Linked DNA regions of Homo sapiens: all the other regions are linked to region 2. Evidence: fine-mapped expression QTL. A gene starts in region 2. Each other region holds a variant in brackets. All regions are shown on one strand. Distances are from middle to middle.

What was found. PIP is the estimated chance that this variant, and not a neighbour inherited with it, causes the effect. A credible set is the group of variants that fine-mapping cannot tell apart.
Region 1: its variant is the best candidate, but not a certain one, in a credible set for the expression of EARS2 in whole blood (INTERVAL, PIP 0.53).
Region 3: its variant is the best candidate, but not a certain one, in a credible set for the expression of EARS2 in whole blood (TOPMed, PIP 0.85).

What each region holds. Positions count from the first base shown.
Region 1 is chr16:23,628,099-23,633,098 of GRCh38, reverse strand. It overlaps PALB2 (partner and localizer of BRCA2), which reads left to right. Exons shown (of 13, transcript NM_024675.4): 5 at 2,630-3,459; 6 at 3,824-3,895. Among named protein-coding and RNA genes, the nearest start is that of PALB2, 11 kb to the left of the region's middle. The variant G/TG (reference allele first, on the strand shown) is at 1,990.
Region 2 is chr16:23,554,464-23,559,811 of GRCh38, reverse strand. EARS2 (glutamyl-tRNA synthetase 2, mitochondrial) reads left to right here and starts at 2,462. Exons shown (of 9, transcript NM_001083614.2): 1 at 2,462-2,607. The coding sequence starts at 2,469. UBFD1 (ubiquitin family domain containing 1) reads right to left here and starts at 2,085. Exons shown (of 7, transcript NM_019116.3): 1 at 2,045-2,085; 2 at 1,533-1,862; 3 at 136-344. The coding sequence starts at 2,069. RefSeq lists silencers at 1,663-1,842, 1,943-2,032 and enhancers at 1,200-1,843, 2,103-2,302, 1,844-2,488, 2,493-2,772, 3,133-3,777.
Region 3 is chr16:23,482,340-23,487,339 of GRCh38, reverse strand. It overlaps GGA2 (golgi associated, gamma adaptin ear containing, ARF binding protein 2), which reads left to right. Exons shown (of 17, transcript NM_015044.4): 7 at 550-630; 8 at 1,188-1,325; 9 at 4,336-4,417. Among named protein-coding and RNA genes, the nearest start is that of GGA2, 26 kb to the left of the region's middle. The variant A/G (reference allele first, on the strand shown) is at 2,961.

The sequences.
Region 1 (5,000 bases), 73 kb before region 2:
GTTGTTGAGACAGTTTCACCCTTGTCGCCCCGGATAGGGTGCAGTGGCGCTATCTCAGCTCACTGCAACCTCTGCCTCCCAGGTTCAAGCGATTCTCCCACCTCAGCCCCCTGAGTAGCTGAGATTACAGGTGCCCACCACCACACCCAGCTAATTTTTATATTTTCAGTAGAGATGGGTTTTTGCCATGTTGGCCAGGCTGGTCTCTATCTCCTGACCTCAGGTGATCTACCCACCTCGGCCTCCCAAAGTGCTGGGATTACAGGCGTGAGCCACCAGGCCCAGCCAGTAGTTTGAAATAGTCTGCTATAATTGTAGTAAACTGCAGCTACATTTAAAAACTTTTTTTCTCAAGGTGACATTCACGTAACAAAATTAACCATTTTAAATTAAGTGAACAAGTCAATACATTTACAGTGTTGTGCAACCACCACCTTATCTCATTCTAAAACATTTTCATCACCCCTAAACCCCATACCCATTAAGCAGCTGCTACCCATTTCCTCCCCTGACCCCCTACTTCATCCCTGGGCAACCACCAATCTGCATTCTATCTCTATGGATTTACCTGTTCTGGGTATTTCATATATATGGAATCATACAATATGTGACCTTTTGTGTCTGGCTGCTCAGCATAATGGGTTTGTTTGTTTTTGAGATGGAGTGTCACTCTGTTGCCCAGGCTGGAGTGCAGTGGCACAATCTTGGTTCACTGCAACCTCTGCCTCCCAGGTTCAAGTGATTCTCCTGCCTCAACCTCCTGAGTAGCTGAGATTACAGGCGCCTGCCACCATGCCTGGGTAATTTTTGTATTTTTAGTAGAGACGGGGTTTCACCATGTTGTCCAGGCTGGCCTCAAACTCCTGACCTCAAGTGATCCACCTGCCTTCAGCCTCTCAAAGTGATGGGATTATAGGTGTGAGCCACTGAGCCTGGCCACTTAGCATAATGTTTTTAAGGTATGTTTCTGTTGTAACATGCATCAGTACTTTGTTCCTCTTTATGGCTGACTAGTATTCCATTGTATGTATATACCACAGTTTGTTTATGCATTCATCATTGAGGATATAGCAACATTTTGAATGATGTGGGATACCATTTGCAATAAGAGCGGTAAATTGCTACTCAGGAGGCTGATGTGGGAGGATTGCTTGAGCCTGGGAGGCAGAGGTTGCAGTGAGCCAAGATCTCGCCACTGCACTCCAGCCTGGGCAACAGAGTGAGACCTCGTCTTGAAACAAACAAGCAAACAAAAAGCAGTAAATTACTCTTTGCTTCAAAAGGGGACTAAGTTTTCCATAGTGAGAAGAGCCAGCATTTTGTAGAACATACTCTGGCAGCCTGTTGAAATCACAGTTTTAGAGGTAGGAAAGAATGTAGGTATTTTTAGTTCATTTCCCTTATGAGAGACAATGAGAAAAGGGAAAATGAAATAAATCGATTTGCCTAAGGTTTCACTGCAAATCAGTGGTTGAGTTGAGACTTGTCCTCAGTCCCTTCTCCTAGTTAATACTATTGACCATACACTGTTTTGTTTTGTTTGGTTTTATTTATTTATGTATTTATTTATTTATACTGTTGGCCATACACTGTTTTGTTTGGTTTGGTTTTATTTATTTATTTATTTTTTGAGACAGAATCTCGCTCTGTTGCCCAGGCTGGAGTGCAGTGGTGCAGTTTCAGCCCACTGCAACCTCTGCCTCCCGGGTTCAAGTGATTCTCCTACCTCAGCTTCCTGAGTAGCTGAGATCACAGGCACGCACCACCATGCCCAGCTAATTTTTTTAGTTTAGTTTTTTTTTTTTTTTTTTTTTTTTTTGAGACAGAGTCTCACTCTGTCGCCCAGGCTGGAGTGCAGTGGTGCCATCTCCGCTAACTGCAAGCTCCGCCTCCTGGGTTCACGCCATTCTCCCACCTCAGCCTCCGGAGTAGCTGGGACTACAGGCGCCAGCCACCACACCCGGCTAATTTTTTTTTTTTTTTTTTTTT[G/TG]TATTTTTAGTAGAGACGGGGTTTCACCATGTTGGCCAGGCTGGTCTTGAACTCCTGACCTCAAGTGATCCGCCTGCCTCAGCCTCTGAAAGTGCTGAGACTACAAGTGTGAGGCACCATGCCTGGCCTTATTTTTTTTAATTTTTATTTATTTATTTATTGTTTTTAAAGACAGTCTCACTGTGTTGCCCAGGCTGGTCTGGAACTCCTGGGCTCAAGCAATTCTCTTACCTTGACCTCTGAAAGTACTAGGATTACAGCTGTGAGCTACCATACCTGGCTAGCAATACACTGTTTTGGGTAGTGCAGAAAAATAGCTGCTAATTAATCAACTAACTCATGACCGTTGTTTGAACCCTTCGCCCAAGTTTCTGAGTCATGGATGGGAAAAGTAATGAACATTTTTTAGTATATTTGAGTTTAGAAGCTCACTCTTTGTTGGGTATTACATTTAAGAATGGTTTAACATGTTTCTTTGATAGGACTTCATTGTAAACATTAAGTTCATTCTGGGGAAATTAAGGTTCATTAAAATGTTTCTTTTAAATCTAGGAGATCCTATTCTCTTTGTCATCAGTGAAACAGATTGTCTGTTTTGTTGGGTTTTGTTACTATTTTGTGACTTATTTTTCTTCTTTAGGGAAGAAAAGTCGTCATCAAAAAGAGGATTCCCTTTCTTGGAGTAATAGTGCTTATTTATCCTTGGATGATGATGCTTTCACGGCTCCATTTCATAGGGATGGAATGCTGAGTTTAAAGCAACTACTGTCTTTTCTCAGTATCACAGACTTTCAGTTACCTGATGAAGACTTTGGACCTCTTAAGCTTGAAAAAGTGAAGTCCTGCTCAGAAAAACCAGTGGAGCCCTTTGAGTCAAAAATGTTTGGAGAGAGACATCTTAAAGAGGGAAGCTGTATTTTTCCAGAGGAACTGAGTCCTAAACGCATGGATACAGAAATGGAGGACTTAGAAGAGGACCTTATTGTTCTACCAGGAAAATCACATCCCAAAAGGCCAAACTCGCAAAGCCAGCATACAAAGACGGGCCTTTCTTCATCCATATTACTTTATACTCCTTTAAATACGGTTGCGCCTGATGATAATGACAGGCCTACCACAGACATGTGTTCACCTGCTTTCCCCATCTTAGGTACTACTCCAGCCTTTGGCCCTCAAGGCTCCTATGAAAAAGCATCTACAGAAGTTGCTGGACGAACTTGCTGCACACCCCAACTTGCTCATTTGAAAGACTCAGTCTGTCTTGCCAGTGATACTAAACAATTCGACAGTTCAGGCAGCCCAGCAAAACCACATACCACCCTGCAAGTGTCAGGCAGGCAAGGACAACCTACCTGTGACTGTGACTCTGTCCCGCCAGGAACACCTCCACCCATTGAGTCATTCACTTTTAAAGAAAATCAGCTCTGTAGAAACACATGCCAGGAGCTGCATAAACATTCCGTCGAACAGGTACAATCCATTTCCTCTGTGAAATTTTCTCTGAAGGAATGAAATGCCTTAGTGAATGTAAACAGCATGACTTGCTTGCGCATTGGGCCTTCCACGTTTAAGAATGGTTTGACGTGTTTCTTTGATATGATTTCATTGTAATCATTAAGTTCATTCTGGGGAAATTAAGGTTCATTAAAATGTTTCTTTTAAATATGGGAGGTCCTATTCTCTTTGTTATCAGTGAAACAGTTTGCATTTGGAGCTTTGCTGCTGTTATAAGAGGAAATAAAGACAATACGAAGTAGACATTTTGATGAGTGGGTAATGCAGGCAGACATTATACATAAAGTGTAGACTAATGATGTGACTTTTGTTTTCACAGACTGAAACAGCAGAGCTTCCTGCTTCTGATAGCATAAACCCAGGCAACCTACAATTGGTTTCAGAGTTAAAGGTCAGAAGAATATTCTCTTCCAGTGTCTCGTGTCTTACATATGAAAACTTTAATGAACTGAAAAGAATTCAGTCATATAGCTTCTTGTTCTTTAATACTATTAAAGATATTGGTAAACAGATTCAGAAAAACAGATTTGGATTGGTTATTTTTCCCAATATTTACCTCTGTTTATGTTTTGAGCTCTCCTCTTAAAGTTTCTATGCCAACCTATTGGCAAGAACAACTTAGGCTAAGTAACTGAACTTCATGTCTAAATCTAAGTTAGGGAGCTGGGCACGGTGGCTCACCCCTATAATCTCAGCACTTTGGGAGGCTGAAGCGGGCTGATCACTTGAGGTCAGATGTTTGAGGCCAGCCTGGCCAACATGATGAAACCCCATCTCTACTAAAAATACAAAAATTAGCCGGGCGTGGTGGTGGGCGCCTATAATCCCAGCTGCTAGGGAGGCTGAGGGAAGAGAATACTTGAACTGGGAGACAGACGTTGCAGTGAGCCAAGATCTTACCACTGCACTCCAGCCTGGGCGAGTGAGACTCTGTCTCAAAAATAAAATAAAATAAATCTAACAGGCATTTTGACGGAGTGAAATGAGAGTTATTCATGCCTCTCCTACTCAAATGGTGTAATGTTTCTGGAAGAATCACTTATGGTGATTTATAAGAAAATGGGGAGCAGTTCTAGTGGTTAATCTTTTCTGTGCAGTGTGGTAACTGAAAATGTTGCATTACTAAATGTCCTAGGTGTAGGGTTGAAGATGGGGGTGCAGAAGCTCTCCCAGAGAATCACTGGTGTGAAGGAAAACACTTCAAATCCACATAAAGTTTTTCCCAGTTACTGGCTATGTCACCTTGGACAAATTGTGTAACCTCTGAGCCCCAGATTCCTTTTCTATAAAGGATGCATAGTAATACCTATGCTCTGTTTCGGAATTTATTCTTGAGTCAATTTTAATAACTTATTTTATTTTTTGAGACAGAGTCTGTTGCCTAGGCTGGAGTGCAGTGGGGCAATCTCCAATCTCCAATCTCCACTCACTGCAACCTCCGCCTACAGGTTCAAGCAATTCTCGTGCCTCAACCTCCATAGTAGCTGGGATTACAA
Region 2 (5,348 bases):
CCCAACTGCTGCCATAAATTTCCATCATGGGCCCTGTCCAAAAAGGAGCTTATTCTAGGGAGAATATAACCAGCCACGGCTCAAGAGGACAAAGCCTCAAATTTCTCAAGACCAAGAAGCACAAGATGGACTCACTTTCTGCCTGCAGAGAGGCTCCTTCTTGTTCTCTTCGGCCTTTGCATCCTGCTGCGCAGCATCTTTGGGTGTGTTTACTGCTAAAACATCATTGATGGTGGAGCCAACCACCATGATCTTGGCCCCACTGGTCACTTTTATTTCTCTCAATGTTTTATCCTCGGGGACGAGTCCCTTATACATGACTTTCTGCATGGCAGGCGGGAGACCTTGGGAAAAGGTAGAAGGTGGACAGTGAAAGGAAGGAAGGACAGAAAAATGTATGGATACTACACAGCTCTTTGGTAACAGACCAAAAAGTGAATACTGCCTCCACCACCTATTAGCTTTGTGAACTTGGGAGATTTACAACCTCTGAACCTCAGTTTCTAGAACTGTAGAAGATTTATTAGAGTAAGTCCTTCTGTACAGACCTGTTTCAAGGATTAAGAGACCAATGCGGGGCATTTAGTACGGTGGCTAGCATTGAATAATTGTTCAGTAAGTACTAGCTCTCATTCTTTCCAAGTTGTTCCTCAGTCATCTAAATCATTCACATATTAAGTGAGAATCCACAGGCATCAGAGCTACAGAAGCCAATAGGGACAAAACTCCTGTTCTTAATGGAGATTACAAGGCTACATGTAGAAAGCTTTAAAAAAAAAAAAAAGTTCAAGGCCAGGAGTGATGGCTTATGCCTGTAATCCCAGCACTTCGGGAGGCCGAGGTGGGTGGATAAAATAAAAAAAACTAGCCCGGCGGGGTAGCGGGCACCTGTAATCCCAGCTACTCGGGAGGCTGAGGCAGGAGAATCGCTTGAACCTGGGAGGCGGAGGCTGCAGTGAGCCAAGATGGTGCCAGTACACTCCAGCCTGGGCAACAGAGCAAGACTCCGTCTCAAAAAAAAAAAAAAATAGGAAAAAGAAAAGAAATCTCAGATGGCAAAGAGCTATGAACAAGGTAAAATTAAGAAACAGAATCGACTGTGAAGAACCAGCATCAAAGTCAATAGCAGCGTTTCCTAAACTTCACTTAGAAGAATTACCTAAGATATTTGCTAAAAATAAATTCCTGGCTACATCCCAGACCCACTGAATCAGAATCTCCTGGGAAAGGGCCCAGAAGCTGTAAAACAAGCGCCTTAGGTGATTTTTTAATTAGAGATGTTAGAGCAACATCAATGAGAAACTGGGGCCTAAACGTCAGACTTCGGCTTTAATCCCAGCTCTGCAACTTACTAGCTCTATAAACTTGAGTCTCTTTCCCCAGCTGAGTAATGGGCATCCAAGTATCCTTCAGAAGACTGCTGTAAGGATGGGGGGACCTGATGCAAGGAAAGCCACCAGGTGCCTAGTAGGGTGCAAGGGCCATCAGGAGGCGGGGTGGGGAAGACTGGCTGTCAGCGCCACAGGAATTACCTGTAATCGAGTGGATCTTCTGTTTCAGCTCGGAGCCTGTGCTGTCCAGGGGGAACTTCACGTCATGCTTGGTCTTATTCCAGATGATCTTCAAGTCCACCAGCTCCCTGCCCGCGCCGCCGCCCGCGTCTTCGCCGTTGCTGACCGAGGCCTGGGCTGCGGGGTCCCCAGGGGGCTGGGCCGGGGCCGGCTGCAGGCTGCCTCGTGCGGCGCCGGAGTCCTCGGCCGCCGCCCCCGCCGCGGCTTCAGCCTCCAGGCAGTTGACGGGCCGCGCGGGAGCCTCAGTAGCCACAGTCTCGGCCTCCGTGTCCATGCCAGGTTCCTCCATGCCTGCAAGGGGGTTAGGGGGTGGGCGCTCGCCGCGGGCTGGGCTTGGGAACGGACGCTGTCCGGGCGCCGCCGGACCTCCGTTCCCGAGCCGCGGTTCTCCCTCCCGGGCCGGGCCGCATCCCCCAGAGGAGCGACCGCAACCTCAGCCCCGGCCCGGCGCCCGCCACCCCCGCCGCACTCACCATCCGGGGCCCCGGCCGCCGCCATGATGATTGTGTACAACACCCACCGCTCCCGCAGAGGCCGCTGGGAAGAGGCGAGCTGGCTGAGATTGGCCCCCGCAGCAGCCCCTAATCTCTCACAGCCCGGCCGGAAACAGGTGGAGGTTTCTATGGAGACCCGCCTCCTCCGCTCCCAGGTCCGGCCCCTGCCACGCTTTCGCTTTCCCAAGCTGAAGGGGGCGGGTCCGGGAAATAGCCCTTTCTCTGGCCTCTGCCCCCTGGTGGCGAGTGCGGCCGCAGCCGTCCAGGGGGGCGTGGGATTTCGCGCTAGGGGGCCTGTGACTTTAAGGGGCAAGGCTGCGCTGGCTGTGGCGGAGGCCGATTGGCTGGAAGCAGTCCCCGGAAGTGACGCAGGGAGAAGCCCACGTGTGCTATTCCATCCCACATGGCGGCGCTCCTGAGGAGACTGCTGCAGCGCGAGAGGCCTTCGGCGGCCTCTGGCCGCCCCGTAGGACGGCGCGAGGCCAACCTGGGCACTGATGCCGGGGTTGCGGTGCGAGTGCGGTTCGCTCCCAGCCCCACAGGTAACCCTGGCGGACGTGACGCTACAGGCCGAGGCCCCCTGTCCCGTCTCCGCCCCACGAATGTTCCCGAATGAATCCTTTCCGGTGGTGTCAGAGTGGGCGGGCGGAGGAGGGTTAAGGCAGCGCGAGCCCATTTTACAGAGGCGGAAACTGAGGTGCAGGAGCGGAAATAATTCAAATTGCCAGGAGTTTCTTGTGTTTTTTGTGCCATCCCATCTCTTTCGATCTTTTTTTCATGCATTCCATACATGTGCATTGATGACAACCTGTGTAACAGGTGTTGTAGACGCTGGGATACAGTGATCATTGAGAAAGGTAGGGGCCTTGCTCTGTGGAAGTCTGCATTCTAGTGGCTGCCGCAGACACTTATAAAAAATAAGTGTAATTTTAGAGTCACATGTGCCATGCGGGAAGTGAAACAGGATAGGAGACTGGGGATTAAGAAGGACGCTCCAGAAGGCTTTACTGAGCAGGTAACATTTGAGCTGAGATCCAAATGACAAGAAGGAGCACGCTATGTGAAGCCTATAGAAGGAACCTTCTGGAGGCCAGGCGCGGTGGCTCACGCTTGTAATCCCAGCACTTTGGGAGGCAGAGGTGGGTGCATCACTTGAGGTCAAGTGGATCACTTGAGAGCCGTCTGACCAACATGGTGAAGCCCTGTCTCTACTAAAAATACAAAATTATCTGGGCATGGTGGCGCATGCCTGTAATCCCAGCTACTTGGGAGGCTGAGGCAGGAGAATCGCTTGAACGCAGGAGGTGGAGATTGCGGTGAGCCAAGATCGCGCCATTGCACTCCAGCCTGGGCAACAAGAGCGAAACTGTGTCTCAAAAACAAAAAAGAAGGAACCTTCTGGGTAGAGGAAATCGCAGGTACCAAGGCACTGTGCTAGTGCTGTTGGGAGCTTAGCAAGCTAGAGGGTGACAGAGGCCCATTGTATAGCCTGTTGGAGATCTCGTCAGGGCCTTTTGGTTCCCACCAGTAAGGCTACCTTCTACGTTCTCTACACGGAGTATGCCTCTCATCCCAAATCCCAGGATGAACATACAAAGATCTTTGTAGTAAAATCCCAGCTATACATGACAGGATCTTTCTGGCAGGCAGTATAGCCTAGAGCAGTGCCTTTCAAACCATCTGTTGTGGAAGTGCTGGTTTTAAATTTCCAATCAATTGTGTATCAATATTTGCACAAAATTAATATAATGACCAGAAAAATAAAATTTTGAAAACATCCAAAATACAAACCAATCTCATTTTATTTGGGTTAGCAGAGGTAAAATCATTCTGCCAGATTGCTATGTAAGTTTCGCCTGGCCAATATGGCAAAACCTTGTCTCTACTAAAATACAAAAATTAGCCGGGCATGTGGCCCAGGCCTGTAATCCCAGCTACTCAGGAGGCTGAAAATCGTTTGAACCCAGGAGAAAGAGGTTGCAGTGAGCCGAGATCGTGCCACCGCACTGCAGCCCGGGTGACAGAGTGAGACTCCATCTCAAAACAACAACAAAAGTTTCTAAACCTTTACTCTCAGTTTCTGTACTTGATTGTGAACTGACAACTGTTTTCAGACCAGCACTGGATTGCACACTTTGCTTTGAAGAGCACTTATGTAGAATGCCAAAGCCTGGGATTGCCTGGGTCCAAATTTCTGTCGTGGCCACTTATTAGATGTGTAACTTACTAGATGTGCAAATTATTATTGTTATTTTGAGACAGGGTTTGGCTCTGTCTGTCGTCCAGGCTGGAGTGCAGTGGTGCAATCTCGGCTCACTGCAACCTCAGCCTCCGGGGCTCAAGTGATCCTCCCACCTCAACCTCCCGAGTAGCTGGGACTACAAGTGTGTGACCACTACGCCCAGCTAATTTTTGTATTTTCTTGTAGAGATGGGGTTTTGCCATGTTGCCTGGGCGGATCTTGAACTCCTGAGCTCAAGTGATCCACCTGCCTTGGCCTCCGAAAGTGCTGGGATTATAGGTGTGAGCCATCACACCTGGCCTAGATGTGCAAATTATTTAATGAATCTGAGCCTCAGTTTCACCATTTGTCAAAACGGGGCTAATAATAATATCTGTCTTATGGGGTTAAGCTCATGCAGCCGAACCACTTAGTAAGGTCTAGTACACCCAGAAAGCACTTAATACACAGCCTCTATTATGATGATTGTACTTCTCATTTCCTTGCTCATTTGCGGGGAAAGCCCATGTGGGAAAGGCTTTTGACTATAAACAGATAAAAGAATTATCAGGCACAGATCATTACAGTAGCTGAAATTAATTGAGGGTTTACTTTGGTCAGCATTTAGACCTCAGAGCAACCCTATAATAAAGAAGGTTCTTATTTTTTTGCTCTTAATCCCTCTGACAGATGAGGAAATAGAAGCTCATAAAAGTTAAGTAGAGTTCCTTCTCAAGGGGTAGCAACTAATAAATGGTGGATGCAGAATTTGAATCCAGGTGTACTTGATGTAAGAGGCTTTGTTTTCAGCAGCTGGGTTCCTCTTTTGTCTTGGGGACTCGTGGGACTCAGTGCCACTGAATACCACTGGTTTTCTGGTGTCCTTGCAGTAACTATCCGAAGGTTACACACATCAGTGTTGAAGCAGGGTCGGCCTGGCCCCAGAAGAGCTTTTTCTCTCCTCTGCTGCCTCTTGTACTTGTAAATGTAGATGAGCTCATTGTGGAGACTTAGGGCTGTGGGCTGGTCCGAAGAAGGTACGGTAAGAGGTAATGACAACTC
Region 3 (5,000 bases), 72 kb after region 2:
CAGACATCCCCTGGGAGAAGTAACCCCCACATCCCCCTACCCCACTGAAAACCAGTGGCAGGCCAGGCACGCTGGCTTACGCCTGTAATCCCAGCATTTTGGGAGGCCGAGGTGGGTGGATCACGAGGTCAAGAGATTGAGACCATCCTGGCCAACATGGTGAAACCCTGTCTCTACTAAAAACACAAAAATTAGCTGGGCATGGTGGCACGCGCCTATAGTCCCAGCTACTTGGGAGGCTGGGGCAGGAGAATTGCTTGAACCCGGGAGGCAGAGGTTGCAGTGAGTCGAGATTGCGCCACTGCACTCCAGCCTGGCAACAGAGCAAGACCCCGTCTCAAAAAAAAAAAAAAAACAACAGAAAAGAAAACCAGTGGTGTATTGGGATAGTCAGAGTGCCTGCATCGTAGTGTCCTTGGACCATTTGGTGAGATGGTGCATGTAAAATGTGTGCACTGTTGTTAGTGTTAACTCTTCTGTTGCTGCTGCTTCTGCTCTAGGCCTGAGGGAGTTGTGGTCTCACCTACTCTTCCTGTTCACTCTCTGCAGCTTCTGACAAGGCTTCTAAAGAGCAACCACCCCGAGGACCTTCAGGCTGCAAACCGGTTAATCAAGAATTTGGTCAAGGAGGTGGGCATTCTTCCAGTTGGTTCAGTAGAAGTAGCATTTGACAGAGGCTGAAGGACAGTGCATATGAGCCTATGCTTGAGGGGTAGAGGAACGGTTGCCTGGGAGAAAGAGTGGCTCCTAGCCCTGAACTCTGGGGAACAGCCATAGTCTCCCTCAAGGGCAGCAAGGTGGTGATTGGAACCAGAAATCCCGCTGCCGTACTTCTCAGCTGCTTTCATCCATGCTGCTCAAAGCATTTCCTAGACACCAGCTTGGGTCCCAGCAACAGGTATTGGTATGGACAAAGTCCAGGTTTAGGAATCTGCTTTTCAGAGGACTTGAGGCTGGTGGCACAAAGGCAGAGGTCATGGTCACCAGTCCCCAAACTGCATTTTCCTCCCCAGGAACTCTGGGCTTTTGAGTATTTTTTCACCCACTGTGTGAGTTCTCCCATGCACTTAACATCCTGGTGATGCCCCTGAGCGAGCTCTCTCAATAGTGACTCTTTCCCATCCCTTGTTCAGGCTTCAGCCAGGGTTTCTGCTCCCTCACTCCCATCCTCCTCTTTTTCCCAAAAGGAACAAGAAAAATCGGAGAAGGTGTCCAAGAGGGTCAGTGCGGTGGAGGAAGTGCGAAGCCATGTGAAGGTGCTGCAGGAGATGCTGAGCATGTACCGCAGGCCAGGGCAGGCCCCGCCCGACCAGGAGGCCCTGCAGGTAATACAGGTGTAACACAGGGGGCTGCACATGTTTACTAAAGTGGGTTTGAAATGCTTTCACCTGTTTGCACCCATGAAGCCATCTCAGAGTCAAGACGGTAAACATATCTGACACCTCCCCAAATGTCGTTGTGCTGCTTTGTCCTCCCTTTGTCTGTCCCTTGCTCCCCAGTCCCCAGGCAGCTGCTAATTTGCTTTCTGTTCTGATTGGCTGACAACTCCCAGACTCTTGTATAAATGGAATGATGCAGTACATAACCCTCTATTTTTGCCTGGTTTCTGGATCTCACTCGAGATCCATTCACGTTGCTGTGTGTAGCAGTAGCTTGTTTCTTATTGCCGGGTACTGTCCCGTCACCTGGATGTACCACAGCATGTACCTGTTGATGGGCCTTGCGTTGTTTCCAGCTTTGGGTGATTGTGAATCATGCTACTGTAAACAATTTTGTACGGGATTTTGTGTGAACATCGATTTTCATTTCTTATGGGTAAATGTCTGGGATTACTAGGTCATATGCTAAGTATATATTTAACTTGTTAGGAAACAAAGTGGCTAAGCTATCTTCAAGGGTGATTGCACCATTTTACAGTCCTAACAGCAGCATATGCAAGTTCTAGCTCCTCCACATCTTGAGATCTTGGTTTTTATATAGCATCTTTATGAGATAATTAACATACCATAAAAGCAACCATCACACCTACCTAGTTATAGAATATCTTAATCACCCCTAAAAGAAACCTTGTACCCATTAACAGTCATTCCCCCTTTCCCAAACTCCCCTTTCCCCAGTCCCTGGCAACCACTAATCCACTTTCTGTCTCTCTGGATTTGCTTATTTGGATGCTTCGTCCAAATGCGGTTGCACAATACGTGGGCTTTCGTGTCTGGCTTCCTTTACGTAGCCTAATGTTTGCAGGTGCATCCATCTGGTAATGTGTCACTGCTTCATTCCTTTTCATGGCTGGATAGCGTTCCATTGTGTGGCTATGCCACAGTTTGTTTCTCCATTTATCAGCTGATGGGCATTTGGGTTGTTCCTACTTTTTGGCTATTATGAATGATGCCTTTGAATTATTCATTACGAATAATGACTTTGAACTTTGTCCAAGTTTTTATGTGAACATAGGTTTTAAATTCTCTTGGGTATATACCTAGAAATGGAATTGCTGGATCTTGGGGTAACTCCATATTTAACATTTTGAGGAACTGCCAAGCTGTTTTCCAAAGTGGCCATGCCATTTTACATTCCCAGCAGCAATGTATTGGCTCCAGTTCTCTGCATCCTGCCAACATTTGCTGTTATCTTTTTGATTGGAGTCCTCCTGGAGGGTGTGAAGTACTGTCTCATTGCAACTTTCTGTTTCTTGATGGCTTATTTATTTCCTATGCTCATTGGCAGCTTGTGCATCTTAGAAGACATGTCTGTGCAAATCCATTGCCCATCTTTTGGATTGTCTTTTTTGAGTTACAAGCGTTTTTTATATATTCTGGATACAGGTTCCTTATCAGACAGTTTTCTCCCTTCCTTTGGGCTGTCTTTTCACTATTTTGATAGCATCTTTTGAAGCGGGAGTTTTGTTTTGTTTTGTTTTTTGAGACAAGGTCTCGCTCTGTCGCCCAGGCTGGAGTGCA[A/G]TTGCGTGATCTCAGCTCCGCACGACTTCTGCCTCCCGGGTTCGAGCGATTCTCCTGCCTCAGCCTCCCGAGGAGCTGGGATTACAGGAATGTGCCAGCACGCCTGGCTAATTCTGTATTTTTTTTTTTTTTTAAGTAGAGACAGGGTTTCTCTATGTTGGTTAGGCTGGTCTCGAACTCCTGACCTCAGGTGATCCACCCGTCTCAGCCTCCCAAAGTGCTGGGATTACAGGTGTGAGCCACTGTGCCTGGCCAGTAGAGACAGGGTTTCACCATGTTGGCCAGGCTGGTCTTGAACCCTGGCCTGAGGTGATCCACCTGCCTTGGCCTCCTGAAGTGCTGGGATTACAGGCATGAGCCACCATGCCTGGCCTTTTTTTTTTTTTAATGTCTTCCTGGTGCTTTTGTTATCACATCTAAGAAACCACAGCCCAGCCGGGCGCAGTGGCTCATGCCTGTAATCCCAGCACTTTGGGAGGCCGAGGCAGGCGGATGACCTGAGTTCAGGAGTTCAAGACCAGCCTGACCAACATGGAGAAACCCCATCTCTACTAAAAATACAGTATCAGCCGGGCGTGGTGGCGCATGCCTGTAATCCCGGCTACTCAGGAGGCTGAGGCAGGAAGAATCATTTGAACCCAGGAGGCGGAGGTTGCGGTGAGCTGAGATCACACCATTGCACTCCAGCCTGGGCAACAACAGTGAAACTCTGTCTCAAAAAAAAACCAAAAAAACAAACAATCAAAAAGAAACCACAGCCTGTCTGTGCCAGGTTCGAGGCAGCCATGCTGTTGGTCTCCCTTGGAACTCTGTTCTCCACCTCCTTCTGCAGGTCTGTTTCAGCCATCTCCCTCTGCATTCCAGTTTTTTATGTCTCTCTGCACAGGAGGAGAGCCAGCCTCCACGTAACTTCTTTATTTACCTGTCCTTCCACTTCACAAGATTAGTAGAAATGAACTACTGTCTTTCCAAATTCCTAAGAGAAAGCCTCCCGAGTAGCTGGGATTACAGGCACCCACTAACTTTTGTATTTTTAGTAGAGACAGGGTTTCACCATGTTGGCCAGGCTGGTCTTGAACTCCTGACTTCAGGTGATCAGCCCACCTTGGTCTCCTAAAGTGCTGGGATTACAGACGTGAGCCACCCTGCCCGGTCAGATTATTTTATTTTCAGAAATCATACACTTGTAGCCTGTAGTCTTTTTCTGAAACTCTGTCATGTTACTTCAAAACTGCAGTCTCTAAGTCAGGACCATTGGGAGGCCTTCTGAAGCCCCAGACTCTGCCGTCTGCCTGATCGAAGGCTCCTGGGGCCCTGGAGGGGGGCGTTATGGGGTGCCTGGGCGTGTGTCATGAACCAAGCTCTGCTCTTTCAGGTCGTGTATGAGAGGTGTGAAAAGCTGCGGCCCACGCTGTTCCGGTTGGCGAGTGACACCACTGATGACGATGATGCACTCGGTAAGTTTTCTTTCCTTGGGTGTAGCTAGCAGCCCAGGTGCAAGACAGACTCGGTCCCTCCTGTCACACTGCTGTGCCAGGAACAAGACAGAGTGGACTTTCGGTTCCGTGGAGCTTGGGCTTGGGGAGGGTGTGGCCTGAGTTGCCTCAGAACTGACTTCCAGCAGGATCCAGGCTTCAGTAAGAAATCAGCAGCAGGTCTAAAGCCTGAAAAGAAGTGGAAATTGACCATGGAGATTGGGGTGTGAGAGGTAGAAGAAAGATCCCACTGGAGGCTTCAGGAAAAGCTGACCAATCGCAGGGGCCAGAGAAACAGCTGTGGGTGGTGTCTCAAGGGGATCACGGGCTTTTGTACCTTCAGGGGCCAGGTAGGTCAACTAAGAGGGCCAGGCCGATGGGAAATGGAAGGTACATCTGTAAGGAAGTGGAGAATTGTCCACAGTTACTAAAAAAGAATTTTAACTCTTTATTGTGGAAAATCTCGAAACATGAGAGAGGGGAATAGTAAAACCTATATATTCTTCACTCATCTTTAATAATTACCAGCTCATAGCTGATTTTTTTAATCTTACTTCATCTGTAC